2 separate regions of the Homo sapiens genome follow, and region 2 is linked to region 1. The links come from fine-mapping of genetic effects on gene expression. A gene starts in region 1. The other region holds a variant in brackets. All regions are shown on one strand. Distances are between the middles of the regions. Region 1 holds the start of CD2BP2-DT (CD2BP2 divergent transcript). Region 2 has its middle 7.7 kb from the start of MAPK3.

Evidence for each region.
Region 2: its variant is fine-mapped to the expression of CD2BP2-DT in whole blood (INTERVAL, PIP 0.94).

Annotation. Positions count from the first base shown.
Region 1 is chr16:30,352,528-30,357,892 of GRCh38, reverse strand. CD2BP2-DT (CD2BP2 divergent transcript) reads right to left here and starts at 2,459. Exons shown (of 2, transcript NR_184233.1): 1 at 2,273-2,459; 2 at 1-1,600. It overlaps CD2BP2 (CD2 cytoplasmic tail binding protein 2), which reads left to right and starts at 2,585. Exons shown (of 7, transcript NM_006110.3): 1 at 2,585-2,681; 2 at 3,186-3,289; 3 at 3,571-3,709; 4 at 3,835-3,992; 5 at 4,093-4,525; 6 at 4,606-4,712; 7 at 4,798-5,365. The coding sequence starts at 3,212. The coding sequence ends at 4,908. It overlaps TBC1D10B (TBC1 domain family member 10B), which reads left to right. Exons shown (of 9, transcript NM_015527.4): 9 at 1-791. RefSeq lists enhancers at 2,414-2,473, 2,554-2,613, 1,668-2,619, 2,351-2,645, 2,336-3,535 and 1 more.
Region 2 is chr16:30,128,217-30,133,581 of GRCh38, reverse strand. No RefSeq gene overlaps it. Among named protein-coding and RNA genes, the nearest start is that of MAPK3, 7.7 kb to the right of the region's middle. The variant C/T (reference allele first, on the strand shown) is at 2,507.

The sequences.
Region 1 (5,365 bases):
ACAGGCCTGGCCCAAGGTGCCACCCCCTAGCACCTTGTCAGGCTGTCCCTTGCTGGGGAAAGTGGCTTGGTTCCCCATCTCCTCGCCAGCTGCTGATCCCTACACGGGCAGGACAGATGGGCAGCTGCAAATGAGTCTGGAGCCTCTCATCTCCCATGAGGCTCAGCTGGGGTCTCTGTCGCTCCTGCCCCAGTTCCCTCTGGGTCCCCTCCTAGGTGCTGTCCTGAATGGCCCGTTGTCATCCCAGGGGTGACTCCTGGTGATGGGAGTCAGCAGTTTCAGATTCTTACACTCCATAGCTCCCCTTACCATGAGGTGGAGCTGGCTTCCTTTTCCCTGTCTTCAGCCCTCCCTGTCTCCCCCACTTCCTGGCCAGGGCTCTCATTCTGGACCTGTGTTGTAATTGTGTACAGAGGATGGCGTTGGCCTGGGGTGGGGGTGCTCGCTTTGTCTTCTGTCCTTTGGTTCTCCTTCCATAATGCTCCTGTACCCAGTTTATTTAAGGGGACATGCACTGGAATAGGAAATGTCCCCCATCTCCCTTCCTGCACCCTGCTGTGCTCCCTCCAAACCCACCTTGCTCTGTGTTCTCAGGCCCCCCTGCTTTTGTCTCACCAGGACCCATACCTTTCACCTTGTTCCCTTCCACCCCTCCAGTTAGTCCCTATCTGGGTAAGGGTCTTCCCTTGAGCTCCAGGGGGTGGAACCCAATGTTTACATTCTCTTCTGTCTCTGCCCCCACCCCATGCAGCGCTTTGAGGAATTGGAAAAGAACCTGCTGTTGTACCTGGGCCTGTTTTCTGCCTTGTTATTTGATGAGGGGGGGATGGGGTAAGGACGAGGGAGGGAGGGACAGAGCCAGGACCTGGGTCTCTGTTGAAGCAGTCTGCTGTCTTGGCAAGTAGGTACCTCTTAGCTTTGGGTCCATCTCTCAGTCACTCATCAGACACTGGTTGAGCTCCTGCTCCATCTTTGCCTGGGATCTGCTGTCTCCATTGTCACTGGCTGCCTGGAGCTCTCTATGTACCACGTGCAGCACCCGGATCTCCTTCCCAAAGTGCTCATGCAACTCCTGGAAGCTGGAGGGGGTACTCACAGTGGCTAGAAAGCCACTGTCCTCTGGGGATGAGATGGGTTCTTGGCCAGTTGCCTGGCACAGCTCCCAGTATTGGGTTTTGGTGGGGGGGGAGGGGGGACAGCAGCCCAGCCAGCCGCCTCCAGCTCGCGCCAGCCAGTGCCCACAGCCAAGTCTCCAGCTCTTCCTGGGTTTCTGCAGCCAGCTTGTAGGCCCGCCCACCTGTGCCCTCCACCCCAGGGGTCAGGATGGTAAAGGCATAGGGTTCTGCAGCCTTAAGGTGTGGTTCCACCTGGCAGTTCTCTAACAGGATGAGGCTCAGGGGTGCATGGTCGGTCTAGTGTTCTAGGTAGAAGAGGAGGTTTCCTCGGAGGATGAACCATCGGCGCTGGTAGCTGAGGTTTCGGGTCCCCTTCTTTAGCAGAATGCCTTCCTGGTCTGGGGCCTGTGTTCTGTAACCATGGAAGAAACTGAGCACGGACTTTCTGTGCAGTTTTCATCGTGATCCAATATGGGAGGAAACCCCTAGGGAGAGAGAAGTGGCCCATCTAGTTGCCTGGGGGAAGAGTAGGGGAACTCTCATGCTGTCCTCGTCTGGCTTCAGCACGTGCTGCCTGCGCACAGTCTTGGCTTAGGGGGATGCAGGCTCCGAGTGTCAAGAGCTAGGGGTCCCAGCACAGGGGCTGATCCCCGCTACCTCCCCAATTCCCCCTTCTGCTTGGGCCACATTCCGCTACCTGGGCAGGAGTTGCTAGGCCCTGTTTGCTCAGGGGGGCTTCATGCTGCAGAGAGGCACTGTTGCCCTTTTCCAGGCCTACCTGAGAGCAGGGCACAAGGGGCTTCTGGCCTGAGTACTGGCGCCAATGCCACCTCTCCAGTGATGGCTCTCCCACCTCAGAAACCAGGAACTCGCCCAGGGTATGGGCGTGGGACAAATTATTTCCCCTGGGTCCTAAAGGGAGGTGTGTTCAGAAAGTGCCCGGAGAGCCGTCCAGGGGCCCCAGGCTGGCCATCGGGAGAGTCAGGCTTCCCCTCGGAGAGGCAAGGCTGCACCTCTCAGGCTAGGAGGGCTGACCACTGGACCATAGGAATGGGAAGGCAGGATTTCTAACGAGACGGTAGGGGCGCTGAGCCCTTAGCCCTGGGGGAAGGGTGACTTGAACCCAGGACAGGAAAACGGAGCAGCAACCCACTGACCCTGCTCGGACTTTGCCCCTCCATCCTGACCCTGGGCGGCCCTTTAAGCAGATGCGCTCCAGTTTTTCTCCAGAGCCTCTACTGCTTGAATGACGGACTCGAAGCTACTTCCGGCCATTTCTCACGCCCAGTCAGAGTCCAGGAATTCTTAGGTTCCCTCTTCTCACCATTGTCCTCCCACGTGACTGACGTCACTTCTGGCGGGAGAGAGGGTGGAGGCGTCTTCGCTCGCTTATCGCATACTTCCGCCCGCTCTTCCAGTTAGTTCCCTAACCCGAGTGAAGCCACTTCCGGGCTTCCCGGGCGCCTTCCGCAGTCCTCTTCCGGGTGATGGCGGCCGGGTGCCCCGGATGTAGCCCTGGCGCAAGCATCTCTTCTTTTTTCCACCTCGCCTTCCGCGGATTCCCAGGTGAGTGCGCGAGGGTGGGACCGCCCGAATCCCCGTGGCCCTCTAAGTTGTACACAGCCCGGGACAGTTGGGGCTCACCACACGGAATTGGGAGTTCGGAGCAGGGAGGAACGGGGTGGCGAGAGCGCCAGGTCCTGGGTCTGCCGGGGCCCGGCGAGCTCCGAGAGAGCCAGGGTAGAGAGCGGGGGTCAGCCCGTGGAGCCGGTGGCGCGCAGACTGCGGGGGCTGGAGTTGGGGGCGGTCACGTGGTGAAGCCTGTCTCCTTTCAGCCAGGGTCGGGGGATCCAGAGGGTCCGCTCCTCCGTCCCCGCCCCGTTTAACTCGCGGATGCTAGACCCAAGTCCTGGAGGCCTCCTGGCTGCCAGCTTCCTTTCGGCCCCTGCTTTTGTGCTCCCTCCGCTCCCAAACTGTACCTGTCACAGACCAGGAAAAATGTTTGCTGTGCTGCGTCTGTTGGCGAGTCCCCTCCTCACCCGGTTCCCTTCCTCTGCATCCTTTCCTCAGCTTGAGAAACACCTCTTTGCCCCGTCATGCCAAAGAGGAAAGTGACCTTCCAAGGCGTGGGAGATGAGGAGGATGAGGATGAAATCATTGTCCCCAAGAAGAAGGTGAGGGGGCCAGACTGCTTTGTGTGGGGGAAAGAGGAGCTAGAAGCCTGAAGAGGAAGAAAGCTGGCGGGAGAGGGGCGGGGCGGGCAGGCAGAGAAAAGCCTAGTTTTTTCAGGTTCTCTGAGGAATGGGTTGGGAGCGTCTTTAGTGTGGCTCCTGAAATATTTGGGGAAGTAGTCGAGATCCTGAAATATTTGGGGAATATTTGGGTCCAGATCCGGAAGTATTTGGGGAGGTAGCCAGTAACCTGCATTTCTCAACTTTCTGGCTCCTGCTCACAGCTGGTGGACCCTGTGGCTGGGTCAGGGGGTCCTGGGAGCCGCTTTAAAGGCAAACACTCTTTGGATAGCGATGAGGAGGAGGATGATGATGATGGGGGGTCCAGCAAATATGACATCTTGGCCTCAGAGGATGTAGAAGGTAAGCTGTACCCAAGAATACACTCTGCTGGAAAAACAAGTAGGGGCCTCTGGTGGTGTGGAGCGAGGGAGGCTCCGGTCTCTTTTTTCCATGCCTGGAAAAGGGCACCTGTGTCTTTGGTGCAGGTCAGGAGGCAGCCACACTCCCCAGCGAGGGGGGTGTTCGGATCACACCCTTTAACCTGCAGGAGGAGATGGAGGAAGGCCACTTTGATGCCGATGGCAACTACTTCCTGAACCGGGATGCTCAGATCCGAGACAGCTGGCTGGACAACATTGACTGGGTGCGGCCCAGGGGCTGGCGTGGCTGGGGCCTGGGAGTGGCAGATGCTGGGCCTGCTCCCGTGGCAGTTGGTGGGAAATCACTCCATCTTCCCATTACAGGTGAAGATCCGGGAGCGGCCACCTGGCCAGCGCCAGGCCTCAGACTCGGAGGAGGAGGACAGCTTGGGCCAGACCTCAATGAGTGCCCAAGCCCTCTTGGAGGGACTTTTGGAGCTCCTATTGCCTAGAGAGACAGTGGCTGGGGCACTGAGGCGTCTGGGGGCCCGAGGAGGAGGCAAAGGGAGAAAGGGGCCTGGGCAACCCAGTTCCCCTCAGCGCCTGGACCGGCTCTCCGGGTTGGCCGACCAGATGGTGGCCCGGGGCAACCTTGGTGTGTACCAGGAAACAAGGGAACGGTTGGCTATGCGTCTGAAGGGTTTGGGGTGTCAGACCCTAGGACCCCACAATCCCACACCCCCACCCTCCCTGGACATGTTCGCTGAGGAGTTGGCGGAGGAGGAACTGGAGACCCCAACCCCTACCCAGAGAGGAGGTGAGCTTGGAGGACAGAGGAGGGGGCAGTGGGTAGGAAGTGAGACACTGGAGGCCAAATGGCTTTGCCTGTTATTTTAGAAGCAGAGTCGCGGGGAGATGGTCTGGTGGATGTGATGTGGGAATATAAGTGGGAGAACACGGGGGATGCCGAGCTGTATGGGCCCTTCACCAGCGCCCAGATGCAGGTGAGCTGCTTTCTCCCTCCTCCTGCCTTGTCCCTGCTTCCCCCACTCCTGTCAGTTGTTCCCCAGCTCTGCCCTCTCCTTGCAGACCTGGGTGAGTGAAGGCTACTTCCCGGACGGTGTTTATTGCCGGAAGCTGGACCCCCCTGGTGGTCAGTTCTACAACTCCAAACGCATTGACTTTGACCTCTACACCTGAGCCTGCTGGGGGCCCAGTTTGGTGGGCCCTTCTTTCCTGGACTTTGTGGAGGAGGCACCAAGTGTCTCAGGCAGCGAGGAAATTGGAGGCCATTTTTCAGTCAATTTCCCTTTCCCAATAAAAGCCTTTAGTTGTGTACTGGGGCCTTGGCTGTGCTGATGGCCAGAAGCCAGGGGCCTTCTCCACAGTCCCTTTGGACTTGTCTTGGTCCCTGAGTACTCCCATGAAGATCCTTCTTGGAGGTGCCTGTCAGGTATCCTGTGGCCTCCCTGCCTGGACTCTGCTTGCCGTGTAAACACCCCCAACTGCGCTGCTCTGTGCTCCTCTCCCAGGTTTCTTGTTCGATTCCTCTTAGGTCTTTGGCTTTCAGGACCTCAGATTCTTTATCCTTGTAGCCACCAGAGGACAGAGCCCCAGAAGTGGATGTTTTAGGCCCAGAAGGACCAGGGCATCGAGA
Region 2 (5,365 bases), 220 kb after region 1:
CTAAGATGACAGTGCCGGAGCTCTGAGGATCTTTTCCCCAGCAAAACAAGCAAAGCTGGTGAAAACCATTTAAAAATAAATAAACACTTAAAGTTTCTGGAATTATCCTAATGTCATATAACAGATGAATAAACATTTAATTTTATTTTTTATTGAGATGGAGTCTTGCTCTGTTGCCCAGGCTGGAGTGCAGTGGTGCAATCTTGGCTCACTTTCTTATTCAAGAAAATCTACTAAAACTCAGTAAGAACAGGGAGAATCTGTGGCATTGAATTTTATTACTTTTATTATTATTATTTTGTAGAGATGGGGTTTCACTATGTTGCACAAGCTGGTCTCAAATTCCTGGGCTCAAGCTATCCTGCCACCTCGGCCTCCCAAAGTGCTGGGATTATAAGCATTGTTATCGGTGAAAGGTTATCCAAGTTACCGGTGACAAATCTGTACGGGTCTGCAGCAACCTCAATTCTTGCCTCCACAGAAGAAAGAACCACAGGGCATAAGGCAGAAAAAGAGACCAAGGGAAGTTTCAGAGCAGGAGTGGAAGTTTATTTTAAATGGCTTTAGAATGGGAAAGAAAGGTAAGTACATTTGGAAGAGACTCAAGTGGGCACCAAGGTCAAGCGTGGTGTTCAACCTTGATCCTAGGACTTTATAGGCTGGCTCCTTTCCCATGATTCTTCCCTTAGGATGGGCTGCCTGCATGCACAGTGGCCTCCTTACCCTGGGAAGGTGAGCATGCACAGTGTGTGTAGGAAGTTGTATGCATGCCTATCTGAGGTTTTCTTCCCTTTTCCGGTGGTCTGACCCCGGAAGGTCATGCTCCATCATTTTGTCTCTTTCTTTTTTGTTTGTTTGTTTTTTTTTTGAGACAGTTTCACTCTTGTTTCCCAGGCTGGAGTGTAGTGGCCTGATCTCAGCTCACTGCAACCTCCACCTCCTGGGTTCAAGCAATTCTCCTCCTTCAGTCTCCTGAGTAGGTGGGATATCAGGCACCCAACACCACGCTTGGCTAATTTTGTATTTTTAGTAGAGATGGGGGTTTCACCACATTGGCCAGACTGGTCTTGAACTCCTGACCTCAGGTGATCCGCTCGCCTCAGTCTCCCAAATTGCTGGGATTACAGGTGTGAGCCACCGTGCCCAGACTATTTTGTCTCTTAATGCACATGTCCAGGAAATTGCTTCTCCCTGGTGTCTGCATTCAATTAACACTCTAACATAACAGCTGTGGACCATCAGGAGCTTGTCTCTCTCTCTGGCGCTGGCTGCCAAATTATTTAGAGAGGCAATGTGATCATTGTTGAACCATCACTTGACATTCCTGGTGGGTGGGGAAGAGCCCTCTCCAGCCCTGCTCATGCCTGTTTAACTACCTGTAACATTATGAGCCACTGTGCCAGGCCATCTGTGGCATTTAAGCCAGGAGGACCAACTATCTCCTGACTGCCCTCCCCCCACAGTTCAGCTGGAAGGAAACTGCTCTCTGAGTAGATGTGGCCAAGAAGACAAGCTCCCTCTCCCCTCAGCTGCCAATCAAGGCTTACCATATCTCACCAGGAGGAGCATGCTGCCACCAGTTTTCATCCCCTCCAACTCCAAATTGAAGAGGCTACATTTCTGGTGAACGTGGTAAAGAAGTAGGGCACTCTTCTCCTCCACCCAGCACTCGCCCACACCATAGAATGAAGGCTGTACCATCAGTGACAGTCCAAGAATACTGGGACCATAATCACACTCCTCCCAGCTTGCTTGTGGAACAGAGATCCCATGCCAGGAGGGGCAAGCCACGAAAACCAGAGGCTACTGCTCCACCAGTGTCCAAAATAGGGTCTCAGAGGCTTTGCCCAGTGGGACAGACAGTTCATAAAAAAAGAGACCCCAAGGGCCAGGCATGGTGGCTCACACCTGTAATCCCAACCCTTGGGAGGCCGAGGCAGGTGGATCACCTGAGGTCAGGAGTTCGAGACCAGCCTGGCCAACATAGTGAAACTCCACTCTACCAAAAATACAAAAATTAGGCTGGGCACAGCGGTTCACACCTGTAATCCCAGCACTTTGGGAGGCCAAGGTGGATGGATCACCTGAGGTCAGGAGTTCGTGACCAGCCTGGCCAACATGGTGAAACCCTGCCTCTACTAAAAATAAAAAATTAGCCAGGTGTGGTGGCATGTGCCTGTAATCCTAGCTACTGAGGCAGGAGAATCGCTTGAACCAGGGAAGCAGAGTTTGCAGTGAGCCACGATCACGCCACTGCACTCTAGCCTGGGGGACAGAGTGAGACTCCATCTCAAAAAATTTAAAAAAAAAAATACAAATATTAGCTGGGCATGGTGGCGCACACCTGTAGTCCTGGCTACTCAGGAGGCTGAGGCAGGAGAATTGCTTGAACCCGGGAGGCAGAGGTTGCAGTGAGTTGAGATTGTGCCATTGCACTCAGCCTGGGCAACAAAAGTGAAACTCCATCTCAAAATAAATAAATTAGATAAATAAATAAATAAACAAA[C/T]AAGACAAAAAGAGACTCTTGGCAGCAGCAAGAGAAAAACAACTCATCGCGTACAAGGAAACTCCAATGAGATTGACAGTTGATTTCTCATCAGAAACAACGGAAGCCAGCAGGTGGTGGGATGACACATTCAAAGTTGATTCTTGTCTCTGTGGTGGTTATATTCCCCAAAGTCACCACAAACAATGAATTAGAGAATACTGAACATTGCTTCTAGCGGAAATACATGGTGAAGTTCCTGCCAGCCTCTGATCACCACACTTTTGTCAACCAATCAGTCCACAGCTGTGTGTTACATGTGATTCTGTTTTGGGTTTTGTTTGTTTTTTGTAGGTCTTGCTCTATCGCTCAGGCTGAAGTGCAGTGGCACAATCACAGCTCACTGCAGCCTTGAACTCCTAGGCTCATGCCAGGCGCGGTGGCTCACGCCTGTAATACCAGCACTTTGGGAGGCCAAAGCAGGCGGATCATGAGGTCAGGAGACCGAGACCATCCTGGCTAACACGGTGAAACCCCGTCTCTACTACAAATACAAAACATTAGCCGGGCGTGGTGGCAGGCGTCTGTAATCCCAGCTACTCGGGAGACTGAGGCAGGAGAATAGCGTGAACCTGGGAGGTGGAGCTTGCAGTGAGCTGAGAGATCTTACCACTGCACTCCAGCCTGGGCGACAGAGCGAGATTCTGTCTCAAAAAAACAAAACAAAACAAAAATCCTAGGCTCAAGGAATTCTCCTGCCTCAGTCCTGTAGCTGGGACTACAGACGCGCATCACCACTGCGCCTGGCCCCCACATCTATCTTTTCAGACTGGTTTGGGACTACAGGCACACACCACCAGGGGTGGTGTATGTGTGCCTGTAGTCCTAGCTACTCAGGAGGCTGAGGTGGGAGGATCACTTAAACCCAAGAGTTCGAGGCTGCAGTGAGCTATGATCAGGCCACTGCACTCCAGCCTAGGTGACAGAACAAGATCCTGTCTCTAAAAAAGATAAAATAAAAAATAAGGCCAGGCGCGGTGGCTCGCGGTGGCTGGCTGTAATCCCAGCACTTTGGGAGGCTGAGGTGGGCGGATCACAAGGTCAGGAGTTCGAGATCGGCCTGGACAACATGGTGAAACCCCGTCTAGGAAACTAGTCTTCCCAGCTAATTTTGTATTTTTAGTAGAGACAGGGTTTCACCACATTGGTAAGACTGGTCTTGAACTCCTGACTTCAAGTAATCCACCCCTCTTTGGCCTCCCAAAGTGCTGGGATTATGGGTGTGAGCCACCATGCCCACCCCATAATTACTTTTGCACCAACAAAATATAAGAGGGCTTCAAAGGGAAGACACCAGCATAATGGCCTTCAAGATATTGTACGATCTAGCCGGGCGCAGTGGCTCACGCCTGTAATCCCAGCACTTTGGGAGGCTGAAGCGGGAGGATCAGCTGAGGTCGGGAGTTCAAGAACAGCCTGACCAACGTGAAGAAACCCCGTCTCTACTAAAACAAAATACAAAAAATTAGCCGGGCGTGGTGGTGCATACCTGTAATCCCAGCTACTCGGGAGGCTGAAGCAGGAGAATTACTTGAACCCGGGAGCCAGAGGTTGCCATAAGCTAAGATCGTGCCATTGCACTCCAGCCTGTGCAACAAGAACAAAACTCCATCTCAAACAAAAAAAAAAAAGAAAAGAAAAAAAGAAAAGAAATTGTACAATCTAAACTGAACATGGTGGCTTGCATCTATAATCCCAGCTACTTGGGAGGGTGAAACAAGAGGATTGCTTGAGGCCAGGAGTTCGAGACCAGCCTGAGCAACATGGAGAGACCCCTATCTCCTAAATAATTTTTTAAAATTAGCCAGGGGTGGTGGACTTCATTTGGTAGTTAATGAGAGGAATTAGGCCAGGAGCAGTGGCTCACACCTGTAATCCCAGCACTTTGGGAGGCTGGTGGGGAGGACTGGTCTCAAGCCCAGGAGCTTGAGACCAGCCTGGGCAACATGCCAAAACCCCATCTCTACAAAAAAAAAAAATATATATATATATATATATACATACAAAAATTAGCTGGACATGGTGTTGTGTGCCTGTAGTTCTAGCTACTTGGGAGGCTGAAGCTAGAGAACTGCCTGAGCCTGGGTGGTCGAGTCTACAGTGAGCCATGATGGTGCCACTGCACTCCAGCCTGGGGGACAGAGCGAGACCTTGCCTCAAAAAAAAAAAGGTGGGGGGAGGAATTAAAAATATATATATTATAATAGACACTGCTGTAACTGTCTGCTCAGCACTTTCTGGGGATGGTGCCCGAATTTTCCTTGGGAAAACCATCCCTTCCCTAGCCTACTTTATGTCATGCCAGTAGAGATAACTAAACCCCCAATTCCACACTGATTCAGGTTGAAGGATTTGCACAGGCTTCAAACAAAACTAGTAACTGGCCAGGCACGGTGGCTCATGCCTGTTATCAAAGCACTTTCAGAGGCTGAGGTGAGTGGATCGCTTGAGGCCAGGAATTTGAGACCAGCATGGCCCACATGGCCAAACCCCGTCTCTACTAAAAATACAAAAATTAGCCGGGCGTGGTGGCGGGCGCCTGTAATCCCAGCTACTCGGGAGGCTGAAACAGGAAAATCTCTCGAACCCAGAAGGTGGAGGTTGCAGTGAACCAAGATCGCACCATTGCACTCCAGCCTGGGTGACAGAGGGAGACTCTGTCTCAAAAAAACTAGTAACCAATAAGAGTCAAATCTAGGCCTTGCATTACAAGAGACAGAGACAGGGAGAAAGAGAGACAGAGAGAGAAGAGCTTTCCCTTGCTGGAGTTACTGAAAAAACCAGACACGAATCTGCAAGTACTAGCTTCCATCTGGCTAC